5 separate regions of the Homo sapiens genome follow, and all the other regions are linked to region 5. The links come from fine-mapping of genetic effects on plasma protein levels. A gene starts in region 5. Each other region holds a variant in brackets. All regions are shown on one strand. Distances are from middle to middle.

Region 1 (5,112 bases), 240 kb before region 5:
CTGTTTACATCCAGTAGCTCATTTAATCCTTACAATAATCCATTTTACAGATTTGGTAACTGTGGTTCAGAAAGGTTAAAAAAATGTGCCTATGATCAACAGCTAGTAAGCTAGAATTTTAACTCAAGCAGTTCTAGTTCTAAAGCCTGCAATTTTTGCCATGATACCAGTGCTTCCTAAACTTTTCTTGTGATAAGAGTCACCTAAATTGTTTATTAAATATAGAGGAAATTTTGATTCAGTAGCTCTGAGTTGGAGCCCAATTATCTTTATTTCTACTTAACCCAATTTTAGTAAACACTGTGTTGGATGGTGCTGCTACTCCTCTACCCCTGTATCTGCTGTCAAAGGGTCATGTTTCCTCTAATCTGTCTTTCCAGAGCTCCTGGCTCCTGCCCATGAAAAAAAGACTGCTATGATTTTTGACTTCCCTTCTATCCTTTTTGAGGTTGAGACTAGAGTTCTGCCTGGAATAGAATTGCATTGGATACAAAAGGAAAAACAACTTGGTTTCCAATAAATTTCCTGTTCCCTTCAATCTTCAATACTTTCTGTCCTTGGATTTCTGTTGGCTCCTGTATTTCTTGCTTTCTCAGATTCCAGCTGGCTTTCACATCTTTCCCTCCCCCTACTCTGTGTTCTTGTTTTTTTCATTAGCTCTGAGCTCCTCCAAGTCTTCTGGCTTTCTTTATGCTTATTCACTCTGTGCTGTAACTTTCCCTGACCCTTTCTTCTTTCTGTGTCTATCCCCTTCCAAGTTTAGCTGTTTGTGTGTGTGTGTGTGTGTGTTTCATTTTACTTCCCCTAATCAACCAAGGGGCTAGACCGTGCACACCCATAACTTAGTGGGTTACTCTCATATGACCCATGGTTTTTAAAAGATATAAAGCAAAATTGTGTATTTGGAGGCTATCATTTTTATAGAAATTCAGATTTGAAAGGGATTGTCCAGCCTGCTTAAAGCCCTAATAATGAAAACAAAGTTTAGAATCCCAGTTTCCCACCACTGTTCTGACTATGTATTGTTAGTCTACGTAGTAGTTGCAAATTATCAGCCTAGGTGAGCCCAATATAACCCCTGAAATATTTTGTTTAGTTGAAACTGCAGTTAAAATATAAGTAAACTTGAATGCCTTTAAACAGAATTTGCACTATTAATTAATATATTTAGCTTCCTCAGGAATCAAGATTATCTTCCTGTGATTATAGATGTTTGGTTTTATGATCTTTCACATGAACAATTACATAGGGATATTTAAATGAGACCATTTCTGAACACTGGATTATTTTTCTGCAGGGTGGAGCCTAATCATTCATTATCATTCAACAAGCAGGAAATTATCTTTAAATTGCCAGAAGGTTGCCATCTTCCCTTTTGGACAATCTCCCTTTTTCTAAGTGATCAGAATTTAGTCCTAAATGAAAACTCAGGTGTTTTTAATTTCTTCTCTCAGATATAGCCATATTTATAAGCCAATTTTTACATTTTTTCTTATAGAAAATAATACCAATTAGTAAATGTTGTTCCCAAAACATTCATTCCAAAACCAGACCATAAAATAATTTTATGTGAAGGTCATTTTTAGAATTATTTAGATTCATGGAGGTTTTTATTTTTAAAATGTTTCTCCCCCCATATAGTTTATATGACTGCCAAGTAATAACAAGGATAGAAAACCTCTGAAAATTAAATAAGTAAATAAACAAAAGCTGTGGTTTCTAAACAATAATGAAGGGACCGGAGCTGTGAGTTCCAAACACATTTTTAATACAAGGAACTGAGGTTTACTTTCCTGGTTGAGAGAGCAGAAGAGCTGGGTTCTGGCACTCCGACGCTAGCAGGGCTGTAAGTATCACTGTGGAAGAGGAGGGACAAAGTGTTATGAGAAACAGAACGCCTAGAGCTTCTATCTCAAGGGCATGACCCAGACCACATTTTCATTCTTCATTGCTGTGTTCCTTTGAAAGTTCAGTTCTCCATTCTGCTGTTTATTTAGATCATGTTAATTTCTTTTCCCTGCAATTTTTTCTTGCAATTCATTTAAAAACACAAGCCTATAAACTTGTTTTAATTCAGCTTAATTCAATTAGTGATAACAATA[G/A]TAATCTTTGTGGTGAAGGTGGATGTGAGGGTCAGGTGGGATTTGGATAGAGAGAAGGCATTCCTGTTCAGAGTAAGATGATTGATGATTTTGGTGGAATTGACAGAGCAAAATCATGGGAGTTATTCATTTAGTTGTGTGTGTGTGTGTATACCTATAAAACTATAACTATTATCTATATTCATCCATCTATCTAATCTATCACTTTACAAAAATAATTTTAAGACCCCATAATCTTATAAATTGTTTTATACATTTTTTTTCAAATTTGATGAGTTTGGAGGTTCACTCACTTTTTACAAGTATTAAGACTATTTCTTTTGTATCCTTCACCTCTCCCAATGGCCAACCTCAATACTTTTGAAGTACTTGGGATACCCATCCTTGTTTTCTTCATGTTCCCTTTTACAATATGGTTGAATAGAATGAAATATCTCTTTATTAAATGTATAATATTAGCACTGGTATGTTGAGGTCTTTTTAAGGGATGTGGCTATATTTTATTTAGTTTTCTGTTATCCCAAGGACATAAACACTTAGGTCTTCATTAAATGTTTATAGAAGTAAATATAACCAACATTTCTGGTATTAAACTTTAGGTGATTTTAGCCAAATTAACTGCCTTTCTGATTGGCAAAATATGTATTTAATTACATCAAATATATCTTTGAGTAGTAAAATTAGTAGCTTTAGTTCTTATTTATTCTTTTTCATGTTAGACTATAATGCCTACTTTTAAATCCTGGTGGTGTTTTTAGAAAATTTGAAAGCCTATTTGTTCCTTTTCTTGGCTACTGTTGTAAAGATCAGAGAAATTAGATTCCAACTTTTCATTTCTTTTCCATATCTGTGTTTCTATTAAGTTAATTCACACAGTGCACAATATGCATGTTCACATGACTCTATTTTACAGGAGAAGGAGTAGAAACATTGAAGGATGTAATGATCCCCTCAGGGTTAAGCAGCTTCTCTGTTGCAATGTCTAAGCTATGGTCTCCGGTTTAGGATTCAGTGTTCGGGCTCTTTTTTCCACCAATAGTAAGTGCCTCAAATGTCACCTTACACTTATAACTTTCCAAGTCACGCTTCCTTGATTTTGTGAAGTAGAGAAATACAGATGGCAGAAAACTTCAACTACATAAAAACGCCTTTAACACAAGTTTTATTCTATGAAATCTGCATTTCATAAAGTCTTTTTGGTGAACTTTATTAAGAAGCAATAGGGTCTAGGAAGCTTGGCAAACAATGAGGCAGGAAGCCCCAAAGAGAACATGTCTGTCAGACATTTTTCCTTCTGAGTTTTCCTTCCAAATGTTTTTGGATCTTGAAGGAAGTGGAGTGGCTCTCTGCCACCACTTTCATACATCTGTAACCCACTGGGTGTACAGAGTCTGGCATTCACTTTTTAAATTCTCTACTCAATTTCATATTTATTTCACTGTGAAATAGAAACTGATCATAGGTTAATGTTGAAGTCAAAATATGAATCTTATTTTTGTTAGACACAATTTCCATTTTTGAGAATTTTGATGTAAGGGCTGATAACTCCTTAATTTTTAAAATGATATGAGACAGTTCAAACCTTGCATTTTATAGAAAACTGTGGACCTGGTCAAATGTTAAAGCTGAGAGTAATTTAGAACTCTGCTTGCCTAGGTTTTAGGACTGTGTCTAAAAGACAATTTCAAGACCTTGGAGAAACAGATATAGTTACTCAGGGTTTCACTCATGAATGTCTACTATCACTTAGCCCCCATTCCCTTATGACCGTATTTTAATATTTAATTTAATTCTGCTAAATGTATGTTCTAGAAAATATTGAAAGGAAAACTTGAGCTAAAAAAGATGGAACATAAAGCTTGCATAAATACTCATCTCTAGAGAGCTGGATCCCTTAAATCTACTTGCTCTTTGAAGAATTTGTACAGATGTTGACCTTTTGATGGGAAAGATATAGTGATAATTTATTAAATAAAATGTCAATCATTTGTCTTAATTAAAAAGTGTTATATAAGGGCAGTAGTATTATTTTAACATACTTGCTGTCAATTTGCAACTTACATCACATGGGACAAATGAAATAATACACAATATACAAAATACTACATTAACCATTAATAGAGTATTATTAATAGGAATCTGGAAAATTATATGATTAGAATAATACTAACTCCTCTTTACCAAGTAGCAAAATAATTTCAGTGACTTTGCTGAAGGCTTTACATAATTTTTGAACTCTTAGAGTTTTGCAAAGAAGATCCTGTTATTCTCACTTTCAATATAAGGAAATGGAGGCTCAGAGAGTTAATAAAACCCACTCTAGGCCACTCACCTGGTAGAGGTACTGGACTTTAACTTACACTAGGTACCAAAGCGTGAATGTTTTTCACTGCATAATGTCAGTCTATTGACTAGTAGGAACTTAGGTTATAATAATACAATTATTTATCTAGTACTCATTGGAAGATAACTTTTTTCTTTTAATATATTAATTAAGTTCTAGATTAAGCTATCACTTTAAGGAAACAAATTGTAGTTTGCTACAAATCCTTAGGATGAAGTAGCTCAACTTCTATCATTAATTCATGTTGAGACCCAACATTCACAGGCTGAGGTGGAAAAACCTGAATGAATCACTTTTCTCTCAGAGACATGTTATTCAGACTCTGTAAAGTTATTCCATAGTGGTTTTTTTTTTTTTGAAAACTTTCATGACCTTCTCCTTTTGTTCTGTACATGCCACACCACCAAAACTCTTGTAAGCTTTATAGGCTATTTCTGATACATGCATCCTTTCTTAGTTCTTTAGAAAGTAGCTCAAAATCAAAGCATGTACCATTGACTCAAAGTCATCAAAAAGATCAAATTTGTGTAAAATGTATTACTGCATTTATACCAAATATTGTGTAATGTAAAATTCACATACATAATGAAAATTCTTGGATAACTTCTGTTGGGAAATATATTTACTTTGCTTCAAACCACTGAATATTTAATCTTGTTTATAAGA
Region 2 (5,112 bases), 560 kb before region 5:
GTATCAGGACCTAAACCAAAACATTTTCTTGAGGTATTCACATTTTTACACTGAAGAACATATGAATATTCTTTAACAATTTTGAAGACATTCTTACTATTTGGCTACCTGCACCATGGAAAGTTTTTCTATGATTGTTTCAAGCAATACTTGAGAGTATTAATAGTAGTGACTATTAGGGTAGTTGTTATTGAAATCTCTTTGTAAATATTATATTGAGACAAAGACACTGTTTAAGAGAAACCTGCCATGTATTGAAAAGATAGATATCCAACTATCTTTTTTATATTTCTTTCTGTATCTTTTTTGTAATATATGTGGATACATTTCCCAGATCTATCTTCATTAAATTTTTCCCTTCAGCTGTGTGAAATCGGACCATTTATTGATTGATTTTTTAAAAAATTGGTGTTCATAATTTTATTTCTATTAAATTTTTATTAATTTTCAAATCCTCCTGTTCTTTTATCAATGTCCTGCTTTAAAAAATTATGATTTCTATTTCTTTTGTTGTGGCTTTACCATTTTAAACATAGTTTTAAAAGTTTACTTTGGATGGTTTTATTCCCTCCAGTTTGGGGATGTGCAGTACTTCCTGCTGTCTTACTTGACAGCTCCTGCTCAGTTTAGATTGCTTCCTTATATGGTTTGTAGTTTTTGATTTTAAACTTTTCTTTAATAAGTATTTTCTCCCTGTGCAGAATTCTGTGGACTCTAGTGCTTAAAGGGAAGCTATTAATATGTATCTATGCTATGTTTGTTCAATTGGTTTAAAACAAGTTTTTAATATTGAGACTTGGGAATTCTACCACTAACCTTAAGGACAGCAGAGTACCATGAACTATTTAATTTTATTTATTTATCGTATCGTATCGTATCATATCGTATCGTATCGTATCGTATCGTATTGTATTTTTTGAGACGGAATCTTGCTCTGTTGCCCAGGCTGGAGTGCAGTGGCGCGATCTTGGCTCACTGCAACCTCTGCCTCCCGGGTGCAAGCAATTCTCTGCCTCAGCCTCCTGAGTAACTGGGATTACAGATGCCCGCCACCCTGCTAGGCTAATTTTTGTATGTTTAGTAGAGATGGTTTCACTGTCTTGCCCAGGCTGGTCTTGAACTCCTGACCTCGTGATCCACCTGCTTCGGCCTCCCAAAGTGCTGGGATTACAGTTGTGAGCCACCATGCCTGGCCTTGTTTTAATTTTTAAAGGAGAATTTTAATTTATTTTTCACTTATATCCTTAGGCCAAATCAAATATTACTTCACTAGGGGTTATTATTTTATCTCTCTCTTCAATTGCTCAGAGGTCCCCCCTTTATTTTCCTAGCTCTCTATAAGGATCTCAAGTTCAACATCTATCTTCATGTAAGTCCAAGGTAATATTCATGTCTCTATATGGACAGTTAATCTGCATCCCCTAGAAATGCGGCTTTTCCTGAGCCTGATAACCCCCTAAACATCTATTGAGTCATTTTGTAAATTATCTGGTTTTACATTTCTTCTTTGTTGTTGGTGCCTAGGAATTTCTCTTATTTTCCTTTAAGCTCATCTGTATATTTCACTTCATTATTTTGATTACATGTGATTTACTGTTTACTTATGTAGCAAGAGATGTGCTTTTTTACTACAGTCAGGTTGTAAGAACTGTACTGAAAAATAATAATAGAATTTGTTATTGAACCAATTCCTTTATTTACTTTTGAAATTTGTTGTTGAACCAATTCCTTTATTTACTTTATTTATCAATGTATATCTTCCTTCCCATCCTTGATTTCCTTTATTTTACATTGACCCCATGTAGAGACAACCTCATAATTTCAGATCCTGTCCTACGTGAAATCTATGTCTATGTAGAGCCTTTCATTTCTTTTCACCCACGAAATTAGTCTCTAGATGTGCCTAGGTACTTACTGTATAATTTTTTACCCTATAATTTAAAACTGTGTACATAAAATACTTATGGGGTGAGAAGGTATAAATCCTTCTAGCCGAAAGAAATGTAATTAGTGTTTCGGCATATTTGAGTGTGTCGTTGCAAAATACTGTTCTCTAGGTTAGTGGTGTGGTTTGGTATAAAAGAAGTAATAGAAATGTTCATAACAGAGACCCAGGATATAAAAGTCCCTTTGTGTTTTTCATTACAAGGTCATTACTTGCCATTCTTTACAAAATAAACATGAAGAATTGTTTCCAGGTTCTAAAGTTCAAGAGTTTTTGGACAAACTTAGTAAAATGGTAAGTGAAATACTTAAAGAACTGTAACTGAAAAGCAAAAATTTAAAGATGTATATTTTCATAGCAATAGAGATAGGATTATTATTTCTAAAAGCTTAAAGTGTGTCTAAACATTTCCATTCAAAAAGGTTACAGTAAATTTCTGCAACTTTACAATTTATATAACCAAGAGGTGGCA[G/A]TGTTCCATCTAGTTTCCTTTGGAAACTCATTCTCCAGAGGTAAAATTTTCAGATGTATTCTAATTAACTTTTAAAACAATTGACTTTTATTAAATTAATAAATACTACTATCACATGTACTTAAAATAATTATAATTGAGTAGCATTTTTTGAGTATAAGAACATTAAAGCATTACTGTATAGAATAGTTTGATCTGAACAGCCAAAAATTAGACATTTTCAACATCATCATATGGGTGTTTTACATCTAAAATACTTTGTTACTAGATTGTCTCTTTGGTGTTCTACTCTGTCTTTAATATTAATTAATTTATTTTGTAACACTATGAAAACAGTGATTTATCTTCATGTCTAACTAGTTAATAAGGGGAATAGTTTGGATTGAGAGTTCGTAACAGACAATATAATTTCATCATTATCTTTCAACATTTTCTTCAAGAAGAAAATAATAAACATTTATGAATATTTTCATCTATTGAAAATACATACAAATACAATCTTCAGCTATTAGTATTACAATGAAAGCAGCTAACATAAATAATTGAAACAGATTTCAATCCCAAATTCCAAATCTGTTCCAGAAAATCTTAAATGAAAGCTTATTGGAGGCACAAATTCTCTTTTACAAGTATGTCCTGGCAATAATTGACTTAACAGTCAATTATTACAAACAAAATCCAGGTTTCTTAATTAAAATACAAAATATTGGCTCTCCTACTTAGCCTGAAATAAGTTATGTCTTAAGGAGACTGCAATTATGGTGGCGCCTTCTAATGCCACTGATGGTCAGAGCCTGTCAGTGTTTGTATAAAAACTAATTTCTTTAGAGGTTTGCAACAGTGCTGTGGATTGTTACTTCCTTAGCAAAGGCTTGGCATCAAAATTCTAAAACAGAAGTTTAGGGATTTTTTTTGAGTTTGGTCTGAACACCAAAAGACTTTCATTTTTACTCTCATAAACGTGGAAAAAGTAAATTCTACCATTTATTATAATTACATTTTTGAACTTGAGAATTTTATCTTTAAATATGTATATAAAAGTTATGAATTGGGTATATTTGGCAAATAATACTAAATATAAATTAATGAACCACTCATAGCAAATTTGAAACAAGTTTTAAACAAAGCCTTTACATATTTGAATGATAGCTATTTTTATTTGGTAAGCCCAAATAAGTTTTTATAATTGATTTTATCAAAATGAATAAAATGCATTTATTTTTCACTTATCAATGTTAGTGACAAAGTCTTTTTAAATGACTTATTTATTCATGTAAGACTCCTTAACCAGCTAACTTAAGAAAGACTTCTAGGACAGAATAGGTTACACTAGTTATAATTTTATCTTTCTTCTACTCACTTGCTTCTCAATTGAAAGAGCGGAAATGACAGTCAAATTGTCTACGGCTGGTCAGTGAGACTTGGGAAGAGAGAGAGCAAAAACCGTGAACTGATTTTTATACCTTGGATTCATACTATGTTTGCTTACTTCTATGTGTGTTTCTCAAGGAATTTAGTGTTGTTATAGGTCATATTGGCATAAGAAAATATCCTTTAGTAGATAAGCATTTTGACTGCTATGTATTAAACTGGAGAATGCATTTTTTTAAGCTGTGTTGTCATATAAACTGTGTAAAAGTTTATATGGACCAGTCACAATTGTGACATACATTTCTTAGACTTTGATACAATATTAGTAAAGTAATAAAATATATGAATAATTATAATGTTAATTTAATAGTTGTCATTGCTTATAGATGGTTTGTAAATATTTTTAAGCAAATTTATAAATTTCACTCTATGAATATTCATTCTATTGGACATCTATATATCAAACACTGTTCCTATAACACTGAGGCAACAATAATGCATAAGAAGAAATTTCCATCCTTCAAGAAGTAGTAAAATATTATAACACTTGACACTTATTATTTATTTTGTGTCAGGACCCATGCCAAGTCTTTTTATGTTTATTAACTTATTTAATCTTCATAAAACCCTAAGTGATAGCACCTGCCATTATCTCCATTTTACAGATCAGGAAACTGAGGCAGATAGTGCTTATACAATTATGAAATGGTGGAGTGAGATACAAATTTAGTCTAGTTCCTGAGCAGAGGCTTTCAATTGTTGTGTTATTTTGCTTCTCCATTTATAACAAGACAGACGTACTCTTTTCCAGATGTTCTGGTTGAAAATCAGTCTTAGGATATGTTTTGCATGATGGCAATCAGCTCCTTGGATAATCACCTTCTTAGCTCCTTAGATACTGTGATTCCATAGTAAAATTTTTTTGGAAAATGCTATATACTACACCTCCCCTTCACTACCATATTTTTAAAAATCTAAATGTGCAGTAGCATGCTAAATGTTTTGGGCGATCTCTTTGTAAAGGTATGAAAATTATACACTTCTCCACAGTGATCTGAATAATGTGACAAATGCTAAGATAGTGATTACATTTATGAAAGAATATTCACATACTGCATCCTTTAATGATTATAAAAATCTTCTGAAATATTTCTTATTAATATCCCTTTTTTAAGGTAAAGAAACCGAGGCAGATGTGTTAAGTGACATTTCACATGTAACAAAGCAGACAGTAGCAAAACCAGTGCTTGAATCAGTTCTAATTCAAAACCCAATGCTCCCAATTATGTAAAGTAAACGTCTCCACTGTCAAATACCACATCCT
Region 3 (5,112 bases), 370 kb after region 5:
TCATTCATAACAATGCACAGAATTTCCAATCCTGATTATCTTTCCATTTTATTTTAATTTTTGATCCTACTCTAAATAGTCAGATGCATTCAAATATATCTTAAAATTCATTCATTATTTTAATTTAATCTGAACAGAATACATAAACCAGTAGTGTGTTTTAAAAATATAATTCTAGTGCATTGTCTTAGAATAGTGTCAACACAACTACTCAGTAGCTCTTTACTGTGATTATATAACATCGATTCAAGAAGTAAAAGGCTGGACTGGTGCAATGGCTCACGCCTGTAATCCCAGCACTTTGGGAGGCCAAGGTGGTAGGGTAGTTTAAGCCCAGGAGGAGTTCAAGACCAGCTTGGGCAATATAGGTGGGACCTCATCTTTGCAAAAATTAAAATTAAAAAATTAGCTGGGCATGGTGATGTGCATCTGTAGTCCAGCTACTTGGGTGGGAGGATTGCTTGAGCCCAGGAAGTTGAGGATGCAATGAGCTGTGATTGCACCACTGCACTCCAGCCTAGGTGACAGAGTGAGAACCTTGGATTCTGCTGTTATTTATGAAAATGAGGCTCTTATATGCAGCACCTTATTGTTTCCTACTCAAATTTTTAAAAATTGTCTTTGATAGGTTTCTCAAAAATTTCAGAATTCACACTTGAAGTACAGGGTATTTGATAATGTGTTTCTTTCTGCAGAGTAGCCAGATCAAACTGATTGCAACCACAGAGCTCTGGAGGAACAGCAAATGAGCTGCCTTGTCACTAAAGATGGTAAAACTTTCAGAGAAAAGAAAAATATTCCATTCTCAACTGGCAAATTAAATGTTATTTTAATAAAGTGCAATGATACAGAGTACACAATTCCCAATCTAATTTCACATGTTATTTATTTAAAATAATATGCATTAGCACAAAGACAAATAAGATTTGTCTCAATGAGAAACTAGTACAGATATAATTCCTCTCCACTTTTGACGCACATATCATTTTACGGCTAAGTAAGCAAAACCTTCAAATTTCAATAAGGCAAATAAATTAACTTTGCACAAGTTGAAGAGGGAACATTTTATGCGGGAAATTATTTCTAAGCTTGAAGATGGAAGAAGTGTGGTTTCTCTCCAATATAATCTCGTTTAACCAAATATAGGTCCTAGGAAGTGTGTGTGTGTGTGTGTGTGTGTGTGTGTGTGTGTGTAGAACTAGCAAACAAGAGCATATAGTATCTTTCCCTATACAATTAAATAAACTGGGGCTCATCAAATATGTGTTTAATAATGTGCATGAGAGACAGGTTTTATAAGAGATGGTAAAGAAGGAAAATCATGCCTAAAAGAACAAGTTTTAATATTTTATCTTTGTGGAATTTGTTAAACATCATGATGTCAACATTCAATTCTGGTAGTGTAACCTTTCCTGAAATTAAGATTTAAGAGTATTTTTTAGCATTACTAAAAAATTAGCATTCAATGACTCAAATTATGATGCCCAGGCTAGCAGCAAGAGCATCATCCAAGGACTTAGAAATGCAAATCCTCAAGCTCCACCCCAGACCTACTAACTCAGAAACTCTGGGGGTGGACCTCAAGAAATCTGTGTTTTAATGAGCTCTTCAAGCAATTTAGATGCATGCTAAAGTTTGAGGACCCCTGGTCTAAATCAATTCCTCACAAAACAAGAGAAATTTGATGTATGTAACCAAGATGTTCAGGGGCAAACACATGAAATTATGCTTCGGTAACTTACTTAAGTTTGCCACTGATGCATTTTCCAGATGCTTTCGAGTCCTATCTATTTATTTTACTCCTTTGACTAAATTAAAATGCAATTTATACAATGCCCTATTTGTTCCACTTTTGCTATAAATTCAAGCTCAATTTTATTTTGATCTTTAAAACTGGTCTTGACCACATTCAAGGTAACTCCAGATCAATAATTTGAAGCTCAGTGTTGTGACACTCTTTGCCAATCTCACTTATCATAGTGGTTAGTTCTACCTTGTCTATTTATCAAACCAAGTTCCTACTTCTGAAGCATGTATACTTCATTCTTATTTTTCAATTTCTTATCACAGAGGATACAATGTCCACCCAAGCATGTGCCTCTGACTACTCTCTCCTATTCTGCAAGGGTGCAATAATTATTAAGCAAACTAGTCAGAAACTAAGTCATTGAATAGGCCATTCTTCATCAGGATGCAGGAATACTACTGGTGTATATGAGAGTAAACATGGTTGGGTAGAGGGACAGATTGTGGCAGAGAGGGATAGGAGTGCAGTAGGAAGCACCCAGCAGCCTGCCAAGTCTAAGTTTAATGCTACTTCTCAGCCAAGCCTTAAAGGTGGTGGGGCATCAGGTGCTTTCTTATCAGAGAATCCCAGAAGGAAGAAGAAACAGTGGATTGAAAGGTCCTTGTGGCCAGCCATAACTATCTATGTCAATTGCTCTGAGATAAACCAGCAGTTTATATGCTCCATTTGTCAATATTTGGGGAACTCATTTTACCCTTTGTTTGTATTTCCAAATGTTGGGTTCTGTTTTGGACCATCTC[T/C]TGTGGTACAAAACATCTCTATTATGCTTCCAATATTCTAAGTTCTGCCTTCCTCTCAGATGATGAAAGAGAGTAAGAAACTTCACTTACTCCATGCCCCATTAAAAGTCATTCTAGTTCTAACTCTAGCTCTTAGATCTTTCTTTATAGTTCTGCTGTAGTTACTCTGTCAAAGCCTGGTTCTATTGTGAAACAGAATAGTCACTTTACTCAGCAAATGATATCAGACTAGAAGAGATCTTTGAAAATGTTGCACTTTTGAGTTTGAGTTTTCATCATGATAGACCATCTGGATAAAGAGAAATTCAATAGAAGACACACTTAGAATAAGAGAGCCATCAAAATCTTCTTTGGAAGTTACTTTTGGCTTAAGGCAGTTTTATGGTTGTTGGCATCTTGAGAAATTTTGGTATGTATTTATACACATTCATAAACGCAGAAGCAGTATATAAGATATATAGCCAGCATCTTGGATTTTAATCAGGAGTTTCCAAGTAAAGATTTTAGGAGAAGTCCCTGACTATTTAAAAGACACAATAAATAATAAAAGAAACAGATTTTTAGCAGAGAAGACTCATTTATTCCATAGACATTAATAAAAAAAAAGGCCAAAAAAAACCCACCATTTGCTCTTCTCTTCTCTTTCTCCTGTCTCTACTTCTTTTTTCTTTCTGTCTCTCCCTGCACTATCTTACCCTGTGTATTAATCGCTTCAGTTATAGACTCCAATGCACATTACTTCCCCATCTATCATTCTTCTCTGTTGAGCTCCAGGTACACACCATTAGTGGGTACCTATAACCAGGTGTCTCATGGTCAACTGAAACATAATCCAACTGCAAATGACTCACCATCACTGTGCCCCATGCCCTTCACACAAACACACATGGAACATGCTCTTCCTTCTACATGCCTTATCTAAGCTAAGGAGACTGCAGTTTCCAAAGATAAAAATATTGGAATTATCTAAAATTCACCCCCTTTTAAATAAAAATAATAAATTTGTTATTGATTTTTCTTTCAATTCCATAATAATTCTCAATTTTTCTCCTATTCTTCCCCCAATGCCATTGTATTAGTTTGTCACTCATTACAAATTTCTTGGATTACTAAAATAGCTGCTTAGTTGGTCTCCAAGTCTCCATATTTCCCTTCAGTCCATCTTCTGTATCACTTCTTGAGATTTATTTTTACCAAAAATAAAAATAAAGGTCATTCTGTATCTAAGAGCCTCTAAGAATTCCTTGCTGTTTCCAAGGTAAAGTCTACTTGAGCTAAGCACATAAGACCCCTTACAATTTGGCTCTAAAATCTGTTTTCTAACATTTGCTGTTTCTCCTTTGCACCTCCATAAATGCTAAGTCAAACCATACAAACTTAAATGTTATAGAAAAATACCTTTTATGCTTTTTTTGGGGGAGTGGGAGGTGGTGGGATGGAGTCTTTCTCTGTTGCCCAGGCTGGAGTGCAATGGTGCTATCTTGGCTCACTGCAACCTCCACCTTGCCTCAGCCTCCTGAGTAGCTGGGATTACAGGTGCCCACCACCATGCCCAGCTAATTTTTGTATTTTTAGTAGAGACAGGCCTTCACCATCTTGGCCAGGGTGGTCTTGAACTCCTGACCTCGTGATCCACCCCCTTTGGCCTCCCAAAATGCTGGGATTATAGACATGGGCCACCACGCACAACCCCTTTTATGCTTTTGTTTCTTTTTACAGTATATGTTTTTTCTCTGCATAGAATATCTCTTTTTTTATCTTACTGGTATGCAGTATCTCCACTATGACTTCTCATGTGGCATGTTAGTTGTGTGTTTGTGACTCTTTGCTCATTGAACTGTGCTCCCGGAAAAAAGGATGATGAGTATAACATAGTTATCTAGCAAATAATGGACATTTAATTTCAGTGAATGAATAAATGAATCAATATAAGGCAACATGCTTAGTAAGTATACCTATAAATAAAAATCCTAGTGATGTTTGAATAAAGTTGATAAATGAGTGAGTAGTAAGTTGTATATATTTGGGGAAGGACTACAAATCTGGAAAGATACCAGTTTTCTTCTCATTTACTTGCAATGTAAAGGAAAAGTTATTTTCATGCTTAAAGTATACCATGTTTGCCATTTTACATCTCTGTTGAAAACTAACTCAAAAATTTTGTCCGAAATTTTCCACATCTAATATCAAATCAATCCTCAATGTATAATATTAAGGACAGGTCTTTTAAGTGAAGTATAATGTTGACTATCAGCCAAACAAAGAAAAACATTTTTGGATCTTTGATGATATTAAGAAATAACTTGTACTGGTATTACAGTTACATTAGATGAGAATCCTTAAATTTTAGAGATACATGATGAAAACACACATATGACCTGTGAGATGTGCTTCAAAATAATGCAAAATGGTGATGTAATTAAGAATGTGGACAAGGCAGGTTTATCCACAGGTTAATGGGTGTATTAGTCTGTTCTCACGCTGCTGATAAAGACATACCTGAGGCTGGGTAGCTTATAAGGAAAAAGAGGTTTAATGTACTCACAGTTCCATGTGGCTGGGAGG
Region 4 (5,112 bases), 320 kb after region 5:
AACAGAGTTTGAAGACCACCTTACTGAAATAAGACATACAGACAAGAATAGAGAAAAATGAATGAAAAGGAATGAACAAATCCTCCAAGAAATATGGGACTTCATAAAAAGACCAAACCTATGATTGATTGGAGTACCAGAAGGAGATGGGGAGAATGGAAACAAGCTGGAAAACACATTTCGGGATATTATCCAGGAGAACTTCCTCAACCTAACAGCCAACATGCAAATTCGGGAAATACAAATAACACCATTAAGATGCTCCACAAGAAGTTGAACCCCAAGACACATAATCTTCAGATTCTCCAAGGTCGAAATGAAGGAAAAACTGTTAAGGGCAATAAGAGAGAAAGGCCAGGTCACCTACAAAGGGAAGACAATCAGACTAACAGCAGACCTCTCAGCAGAAATTCTACAAGCCACAAGAGATGGGGGGCCAATATTCAACATTGTTAAAAAAAAAAGAAAACAATTTTCAACCCAGAATTTCATATCCAGTCAAACTAAGCTTCATAATTGAAGGATAAATAAAATCCTTTCCAGACAAGCAAATGCTGAGGGAGTTTGTTACCACCAGGCCTGCCCTGCAACAGTTTCTGAGAGAAGCACTAAATATGGAAAGGAAAAACTGGCATCAGCCATTGCAAAAACACACCAAAATATAAAGACCAATGACACTACGAAGAAACTGCATTGAGTAGTGTGCAAAACAACCAAATAGCATAATGATGACAGGATCATATTCACACATATGTGGGGCATGGTGGCTCATGCCTGTACTCCCAGCACTTTGGGAGGCTGAGGCAGCTGGATCACTTGTCAGGAGATCGAGACCAGCCTGACCAACATGATGAAACCCCATCTCTACTAAAAATACAAAAATTATTTGGGTGTGGTTGCACACGCCTGTAATCCCAGCTACTCAGGAGGCTGAGGCAGGACAATTGCTTGAATCCAGGAGGCGGAGGTTGCAGTGAGCCAAGGTTGCAGTGAGCTGAGGTTGCAGTGAGCCAAGAGCGTGCCATTGCACTCCAGCCTGGGCAACAAGAGTGAAACTCTGTCTCAAATGAATAAATAAATAAAATTCACACATAACAATACTAACTTTAAATGTAAATGGACTAAATGCCCCAATTAAAAGGTACAGACTGGCAAATTGGATAAGGAATCAAGACCCATCAGTGTGCTGTGTTCAGGAGACCCATCTTACATTCAAAGGCACACAAAGGATCAAAATAAAGGGATGGAGGAAAATTTACCAAGCAAATGGAAAGCAAATAAAGCAGGGATTGCAATCCTAGTCTCTGAAAAACAGACTTTAAACCAACAAAGATCAAAAAAGACAAAGAAAGGCATTACATAATGGGAAAGGGAACAATTCAACAAGAAGAGCTAACTATTCTGAATATATATGCACCCAATATAGGAGCACCCAGATTCATAAAACAAGTTCTTAGAGACCTACAGAGAGACTTAGACTCCCACACAATAATGGTGGGAGACTTTAACAACCCGCTCTCAGTATTACACAGATTAACAAGACAGAAAATTAACAAGTATATTAAGGACTTGAATTCAGCTCTGAATCAAGTGGACCTAGTAAACGTCTACAGAACTCTCTACCCCAAATCAACAGAATATACATTCTTCTCAGCGCCACATGGCACTTATTCTAAAATTGACCACATAATTGGAAGTAAAACACTCCTCAGCAAATGCAAAAGAACTAAAATCATAACAAATATTCTCTCAGACCACAGTGGAATCAAATTAGAACTCAGGATTAAGAAAATAACTCAAAACCACACAATTTCAAGGAAATTGAACAACCTACTCTTGAATGACTCCTGGGTAAATAATGAAATTAAGTCAGAAATTAAGAAGTTCTTGGAAACCAATGAGAACAAAGAGACAACATACCAGAATCTCTGGGACACAGGTACAGCAGTGTTAAGAGGGAAATTTATAGAACTAAATGCCCACATCAGAAAGCCAGAAAGATCTCAGACTGACATACAAACATCACAATTAAAAGAGCTGGAGAGGCAAGAGCAAACTGATCCAAAACTAGCAGAAGACAAGAAATAAATCAGAGGAGAATTGAAGGAGATAGAGACACGAAAAACCCTCCAAAAAAATCAACAAATCCA[G/A]GAGTTGTTTTTTTTTTTGAAAAAATTAACACAATAGACTGCTAGCTAGACTTATACAGAAGAAAAGAGAAAAGAAATAAATAGACACAATAAAAATGATAAAGCGGATATCACCATTGATCCCACAGAAATACAAACTACCATCAGAGAATAAACACCTCTACACAAATAAACCAGAAAATCTAGGAGAAATGGATAAATTCCCAGATGCAAACACTCTACCAAGACTAAACCAGGAAGAAGTTGAATCCCTGAATAGACCAATAACAAGCTCTGAAATTAAGGCAGTAATTAATAGCCTACCAACCAAAAAAAAAGTCCATGACCAGACAGATTCACAGCTGAATTCTAGCAGAAATACAAAAAGGAGCTGGTACCATTCCTTCTGAAACTATTCCAAACAACTGAATAGGAGGGACTCCTTCCTAACCCCTTTTATGAAGTCGGCATCATTCTGATGCCAAAACTTGGAAGAGACATAACAAAAAAAAATAAAACTTCAGGACAATATTCCTGATAAACATCAATGCGAAAATCCTTAATAAAATACTGGCAAACCAAATCCAGCAGCATATCAAAAAATTTATCCACCACGATGATATTGGCTTCATCCCTTGGATGCAAGGCTGGTTCAACATACGCAAATCAATAAATGTAACCCATCACATAAACAGAATCAATGACAAAAACCACATGATTAGCTCAATAGATACAGAACGGCCTTTGATAAAATTCGACATCCCTTCATCATGGTAAAACTCTCAATAAACTAGGTACTGGTGGAACATATCTCAAAATAATAGCTATTTATGACAAACCTACAGCCAATATCATATTGAATGGGCAAAAGCTGAAAGCATTCCCTCTGAAAACTGGTACAAGACAAGGATGCCCTCTCTCACTACTCTTATTCAACATAGTATTGGAAGTTCTGGCTAGGGAAACCAGGCAAGAGAAAGAAAGTAAGGGTATTCAAATACGAAGAGAGGAAGTCACGTTGTCTCTGTTTGCAGTCAACATGATTTTATATTTAGAAAACCCCATCATCTCAGCCCAAAAACTTCTGGAACTGATGAGCAACTTCAGCAAAGTTCTGTACATGTATCCCCTTTTGTTTTAAGAAGAAATAAAGGGGGGAAAAAAGAAAACAAAACAAACTACCAAGAAAAAATATTTAAAAAAATGTTTTTTAACTAGGTTTATAATAGATCCATTTTCTCAGTTTGCCATGCATTTAATTCAAGTTAATGGAACCTATAAATATTTTTATAGAAATTTATATTTCTAGTAAGCTTTCTTCATTATGGAATTCCATGGAATCATGTAACTCTCTTTTATAGCACTTATCACTGTGTAATTTTAGTTTTTTGAATTATTTATTAATTGTCTTTTCCACAATACCATAAGCTCAATGAGAGCCAAGGGTCATGTCTGCTTTTAAGCACTATTTTCTCAGCACATGGACCATTGATTGGCACAATGTCAGTGCTCAGTGAGTGTGAGTGAATGAATGAACTTTTCAAGAATGCAGTCATTCCATTATTAGTTGAGTACAAAGACCTGACTAAGAAAGTTAACTTACATAGTTTAGTTTTTAAAATTTCACTTAAGTGTTTAGCCAAATGCAATTTGTTACATCCAAAATGTCAGTATTCTGCCACCTATAAGATAATTCTACTTATTTTTCTCCATTACAAAACATTTCTAAAACTAAGCCTACCCTACCATTTTTATCAGTGATACCAACGTTTGTCAGCACCCGTGTGGTGGGTGGAGAGACAAGATAATGAGCTGGCTGGTACTACTATAGTGAAATGAGCAATTTCAATAACAGGTTTGAAACTCACATCAGATACTATGCTTTAACATATTAATATGATAATGATCACACATTTATTAATCCTTCTGGTGTCACTCATGGCTTTGAGTTATTTATATTCTTAAAATTAATCTTGTAAAAAAACTGCAATTTGGAGTTCAGGAGGTGAGATTAAGTAACTGTTCAATGTCAGACAACTGGCAAATTGATGCCTGCATACACTCTCACATCTGTTTGTTTCCAAAGCTCTTGCTTTTAACATCTTGTTCCAGGCACCGATTTAGAAAAACACTTGAGATATCAGACACCATAAGGCTTTTATTCAGAGATGAGGTGCTAAATTATTCAGATTTTTAAAAATGTAATTCATTCACCAGTACAAACTTCCATTCCCTAGGCTGAATCTGAACTAGGCAGCCTATAGACTAAAACCTACTTTTACCAATCTTGCTCAACAACGCCCCCCTCCCTACTCCAATAATGTTCCTTTTTCACATTCTAGAAATAGCTCTGGTCATCTCCAAATATCTATTTGAAATACAGGTCTATTGCATACATTTGTCTTCCCTTCCAAGGACAAAGCCCATGTTTCTTCAAGTTCAAATGTGACTCACCTCATTCAGAAAGTCCTACCTGATGAATGTTCCTCCACAATCATCTTCCCTTTCCCTCTTGTTTTTTTCTCTCAGCATTTCTCATTATCAGGAAATTCATTTCTTTCTATTTATTCGTTTATATACTCATTATACGTATATATTCATTGAGCACCTGTTTGATATGTGGTAGTGATATAAGTGCTAGAAAATACAGTGGTGGCCAGCACAGTGAGGTCCCTTTAGCTGTGAAACTTACAAGACAATCTGATGATACTAGTAAACTAGGGGTATTTACACCTAGAGCCACAAAGAGTACCCAGATGGGGCTACTTTAAATTGGGTGCTAAGAAAGCCTCAATAAGGAAGGAATGTTTAAACTGAGTAGAAAGAAGAAGCCAACCTGTGCAGATATGCAAAGTATTTCAGATGTGAAGTATGAAGACTCTAAAGTAAATAGAAATTTGGTTTGTTTGAAATACATCAAAAGGCTTTTAGGTATGGTTTATATGGAACATGGTGAGTGAGGAAAACAGTAGTAGAAGATGAG
Region 5 (5,112 bases):
GTGCAATCTGGAAGGTCTCAAGCATTTATCGTTTCCCGAATGATCCATGCTGTCTTCTACCTCTGCATACCTACTGTCTGATCCCTGATAAGTATTTTCTTTCTTTTTCTTCTGGAATAACCCTTTTTGTTGTTTAAAACTGAACACAATCATTAGCTATTTTCTGGAAACTTTACTTGAATTCTATACTCCCCTTTTTCCACACTCAAATTGAATTTGACATCTTCCATCCATTTACTAGAACTGTGGGGATCCCGCAATTACAGATTTTACTGTTCTGTAGTGTATATATTCATGTGCCTGTCTCCACCACTGGATTGTACAGCTTTACCCACAGACATTAAGGATAATTTATAACTGTATTTTTGTCACCAAACACAGTGATGCAGTATAGGTATTCAATAAATGAATATTGGCTTATACCCAAGTTATTAGATGTTTATATATAAGATATATAAATAACTGATAACATCTAAAAAATAATACCTTCCAGATATTTACAAGTTACTTTTGCTAGAGGAGAAATCCAGCAAGTTTTCTAAAAACAATCAAGAAAATAGCAATGTTAATTTAATATGTTACGCAAGTTAGTCAAATTGATTCTGCAAACATATGAAGTGACACTAGCCAAATCAATTAATAGAAAAAAATACAGGGATTGAAATTGTGTTACAGAGACAGTTGTAGTAACTGTCATCAAGAGAGTCAAGCTATAACTAAATAAGAGCCAAATTATTTGAATTTTTAAATGCTGTTGTTAATTATGAATCACCTGTGACAATGTAGAGTGATAGGCTTCAAGTAAGGGCTTGAAATCTCTCTTTTTTTTTTAAATCTTACCTCTTTGCAAATCTCATCTTATAAGAAGAATCCAAGACAACTGATTGGACCATGTGTACTACTTGCTGGGTCACTGCATTTGGAGATTAGGCCCATGGGTGTAGCTTGGTAACATTTTTCTTGCTGAGGGCTGGAGTGGAAATGGACATATCAGCTTTCTGTTTTCTCATGTGTTCATGGACAACCTCATCTAGCCAAGCCCTTGTACTCCTTATTTGGCTAGCCCAAAGAAAGAAAAAGAGGACTCTTTTGATCCTAGCACAAATTTACTTGGTCAAATCCAGTTTTCCAAAGACCCAGAAATAGAAATTTGAAGTCATAAACTCAACTTATAAGAAAATGGTATTTTATTTGCCATTAATCATTATATCTTGTGAAAAGCCCCTTCAAGAATCTTATAAGTGATAATATCCCAGATATATCATCAAAACTTCATCAGTACTTCAGAGTAATAATCACTTAGAAATACTACATGTTGTCTTCCCCAAATATGTTTTACTTCCTTTCACATTTTCAGTTTTTAATGTTTTACTTCCTTTCACATTTTCAGTTTTTGGTTGAACAAGCTTCTTAATAGATTATTTTATAGGATTTTCCACACTTCCTACTCAACAAAATATTGACTCAACTAAGAAAACCACCTCAATGATTTGGTCCACAAGAATCAAGAATGTATTACCTCTCCAAAATCTGTCTTATTCATTCCAAACTATGACTTGTGGTTTTGTATTTAACCTAGGATTTTTCAAGAATTTTCCTGTAATACTCAATGAAAAATAACTTCTATTTTTAAATTAATAAGATGGATAATGCTGCAAATTATATCAGTGTTTTAAAGATGTATGGGGCTTATTATCCTACTAAATGTTCTGAGATTTTAAAATTCATTGTTTTCCACATTTCTTTACCAACAGACATTTTCCTCATTATAAGACCTATTTAGATAATGTCAAACAAGCATTCTAAAAAATATAATATGGGAAATGTTGGTACAACATATCAAATAGTATAATTTTAGTTCTAACAATGTTAAGAAGTTATTTCCCTCCTTCATGCAACCTGGTGTCAAGTTAATTTAGAAGTAAAAGATGAAAATAAGAGGCCATTGCCTTTTCAACTGAGGTCATAATGAGTCTGTAATGTATTTTGTGAGCTTCATTATATTGCTGCCTGATCTATAAAAATTAAAGTTTCCTATATTTCTCTTTATCACAAAAAAGAACTAAAGAAATATTAACAATCTTTATAAAAATAAGAAAATATTTTAGGAATAATTACAAAAAGCAAAATTATGGAACAATGGAAAAATATTACTTAAACAAAAGAAAAACTGAAAATATAAGGGATTTCTCTCCTTCTTAACTTGTTTCCTTGACTTGATATGACTCTCCTTTTATGTTCGATACAATTTAAAGTAAACTTCTTTGCTTTCTGGCCCATAATTATGCCTTTATTCAAGTATATATTAGCTTAAACATAAAATGCCATATTTTTAAAATTACAATCTAGCTACAGTTACAATTATTCCTTTTCTGAATTCAGTTTATAGATTCTACCAAATGCTAAAGAAGATATAAAATATTCTCCAGTCACACATCTAGCAAATAGATTCATGGATTCTACATTAAATAAAAATAAATTATTTTTCATCAACATCTTATAATACATTCATCGGATCCAATACAAGAGAAGTAAGTCCACACTTGAGTTCTAGGTCATAAAAATTAATGAAAATATGAAGCATTCTGATATGGTGTTAAGTGGTTTTACTTCACTAAATTACTTCTAGTTAGCAAATATTAACACTGTAGGTAAATTGAATGTTTTAAATTAATCTTATTTTTGTTTAATTTCAAAGCAAAATAAATAAAATAGATAACAGTTTGAAATTTTTCATCTTATAACTTGTAAATAGATACTGGAAGGTTTTATTTTTATTTCTAAAAGGTTCTAACACATGTGTGAATTCCATTAATCCTAATAAGTAACTCAAAGTCATTGGGTCATTCTATACAATAAAACAGAAACAAGCTGAGAGATTAATACAATTTTCACATGCTGCATTATCTATAGAGTTAGAAATAAGTGAGTAAAAGTGAGTGTACATTTTTGCAAGAAGAATAAACCATGTTAAAGCATAAATTTGTAATTTACTTGGTACTTCATATTATAAGCCCCTGTTAAGCTTAAGTGTGATGGTATTCAGTTTACAAAGAATTAGTATTATGAATAATTCAGATAAACCAGAAGCACCATTCACTTACCCAAGAAAATAAACACTATCATGCTGGACAACTCACGGCAGTTCACCTGGAAAAAAAGGCAGATGCGTTTCTTCTGACAACTTTCTTAAGAGTAACTGTCCAGAATAAGGCTTCAGCCTCTGTGTTTGCTTCCTAAAGGCATTACCAATTCAAGTCAGCTTCCTATATCATCATTTCCTCCCCAGTGTTTCCTAAGTTGTGAACTGTTCTAATTATATTCAAATTCGATTATTCTCCTGAGGGTGCTGGTCTTGAATATTAGGATATTATGCCTCTAAGAAAGCCCATGAGCCAAATACTAAGAGAAATGATACATAATCTGCACGTTCATGAAAAAGGTTTATTTTCCTTAACTAAAATACAACACTACGTAAAAGCCTCCCAAATATGACCCAAAATTTTCAAAGACACTTGAGCATACTCAGTCTCCACTTGTTTAATTAGCCTCATTAAGGCAATTTCATGTCATTTGAGGATATAGAAAAGCTAAAAACGCATAATAGCCCTGGAAAATGTATGCAAAATCGAAGTTCTACTAGAATTAGCCTGATATAACTCAAACATACTGGGAAGCTGCTTCCCAAACAAAGAATGTTGTATTACATGTGCCACAAACCCCAGTATGCTTAAAAATTATGCCACTTCAGCTACAGTATCTGATACCTTCCAAGTACAGCTACAGTGTAAAAAACATACTCTTCTCAGTGATGCAGAAATTCTATGTTCCACTGGAAAGATAATCATCTACATTTGTGTGCATCACTTGACAACTATTTTTTTTCCTAGTTTCAATGAAGGGACTTATTTATCTTATGCCTTGGTTTGGCTACGCCCTTCCTCATGTAAACCTACAGCACATCATCTTTCTTGGGGTGTCATGAGACTTCTATTTCTAAATCACCTGGAGGCCTTTCTAGAATGAATGCTTAAAAAATAAAATGCTGCTTTGGCAAGAAATTAAGAAGAGATAGGGATGGGAGAGAAGTATTTGTGCAGTTACACCATTGAGTTTTTGATTGCATATTGTTCATGTTTATTTTATACCAGTAGAGAAGTTATACTATATTTTGTTTTCAGCAGGCATAATGAAAAAACACAGACTCTAGAGTCCAACAAACAAAAATTATAACACTGCTTTTCTCTATAGATCTAGATGAGTGACTTAGCATTGGAAGTTATTCACTCCTTTGTAAAATGTGTCAATTGTATTAATTCTTGCTGTAATATAAGGTATGTATATGAGGGGCTTATATCACAAAAAAATTGATTATATTACATTCACTGACTTAATTATTACATAATAGAAGGATTATAATATCATAAAATTAATCAATCTTTTCTTCTTTTCAAGGGATTGAGTCACTAAACTTTCCTAATGACTTCTACCAAGACAAGCTTAGATATAAGCCAACTTAAAAGGACTTAAACTAGGACAGAGTTGGTTACTACCATAGTTGAAGAGTCCGTGGGAAGAATTAATTTCAGGTGTGTTTTAAACTGTTTTCTCTGGGTCTAAGTTGTTTGTTTCCTCCTGTCTCTTACCTGCATTCTTCTCTACCAGTTCTATTCCCAGAAAGGCTATTTCCTTCTGGTGGGAAGATGGCTGTGAAGCCCTTGGCAAACATCCTTCTCTCTTAGAAAGCAGGGTAGAAAGTGTCATTCTTTTACTATTAAAGTTGCAGAATTAAGTCACATCAGTTCTAGATGTGTCAAGTGCCAATCAATTTTACAAAAGGAACTTACCCCATGTCCAGTATCATAGATACAGGTTGTCAGTGTAGTTGGCCCTTTTCAAAGCACAGAATCTGATGGTGCAGAAGGTGTGCATCACGAAGGAAAATTATGGTATTAGAAGAAGCAGCTGAAGGGATCTTGGGGCAGCAAAAACCACATGCTTAGTAATGTATCTAAGTGCTGAGTTTAAGAAGAGCAACCACAAGGAAAATAAACTTATGAAACAAAGGAAGAGAATAACATAATTTTCTGTTCAAGGAAGGCGATATAGTTA

Alleles and levels. Positions count from the first base shown, and alleles are read on the strand shown. Strength reflects both the effect of a copy and how common the allele is.
In carriers of allele A in region 1, the plasma level of the protein whose gene starts at base 3,212 in region 5 tends to be higher than with G alone (moderate association).
For the plasma level of the protein whose gene starts at base 3,212 in region 5, G is the low allele of the variant in region 2 and A is the other (moderate association).
As copies of T replace C in region 3, the plasma level of the protein whose gene starts at base 3,212 in region 5 goes up (moderate association).
With allele G in place of A in region 4, the plasma level of the protein whose gene starts at base 3,212 in region 5 is lower (weak association).

What was found. PIP is the posterior inclusion probability: the model's chance that the variant is causal. The UK Biobank Pharma Proteomics Project read protein levels with antibody pairs (Olink). The fine-mapping took linkage between variants from a reference panel, not from the people measured, so its PIPs are less certain.
Region 1: its variant is fine-mapped to the plasma level of the GFRAL protein (UK Biobank, PIP 0.93).
Region 2: its variant is fine-mapped to the plasma level of the GFRAL protein (UK Biobank, PIP above 0.99).
Region 3: its variant is fine-mapped to the plasma level of the GFRAL protein (UK Biobank, PIP above 0.99).
Region 4: its variant is fine-mapped to the plasma level of the GFRAL protein (UK Biobank, PIP above 0.99).

The regions. Positions count from the first base shown.
Region 1 is chr6:55,564,532-55,569,643 of GRCh38, reverse strand. The region is part of intron 1 of HMGCLL1 (3-hydroxy-3-methylglutaryl-CoA lyase like 1); the gene reads left to right. Among named protein-coding and RNA genes, the nearest start is that of HMGCLL1, 12 kb to the left of the region's middle. The variant G/A (reference allele first, on the strand shown) is at 2,103.
Region 2 is chr6:55,883,688-55,888,799 of GRCh38, reverse strand. No RefSeq gene overlaps it. Among named protein-coding and RNA genes, the nearest start is that of BMP5, 11 kb to the right of the region's middle. The variant G/A (reference allele first, on the strand shown) is at 2,418.
Region 3 is chr6:54,951,235-54,956,346 of GRCh38, reverse strand. No RefSeq gene overlaps it. Among named protein-coding and RNA genes, the nearest start is that of FAM83B, 110 kb to the right of the region's middle. The variant T/C (reference allele first, on the strand shown) is at 2,548.
Region 4 is chr6:55,003,036-55,008,147 of GRCh38, reverse strand. No RefSeq gene overlaps it. Among named protein-coding and RNA genes, the nearest start is that of FAM83B, 160 kb to the right of the region's middle. The variant G/A (reference allele first, on the strand shown) is at 2,151.
Region 5 is chr6:55,325,569-55,330,680 of GRCh38, reverse strand. It overlaps GFRAL (GDNF family receptor alpha like), which reads right to left and starts at 3,212. Exons shown (of 9, transcript NM_207410.2): 1 at 3,105-3,212. The coding sequence starts at 3,126.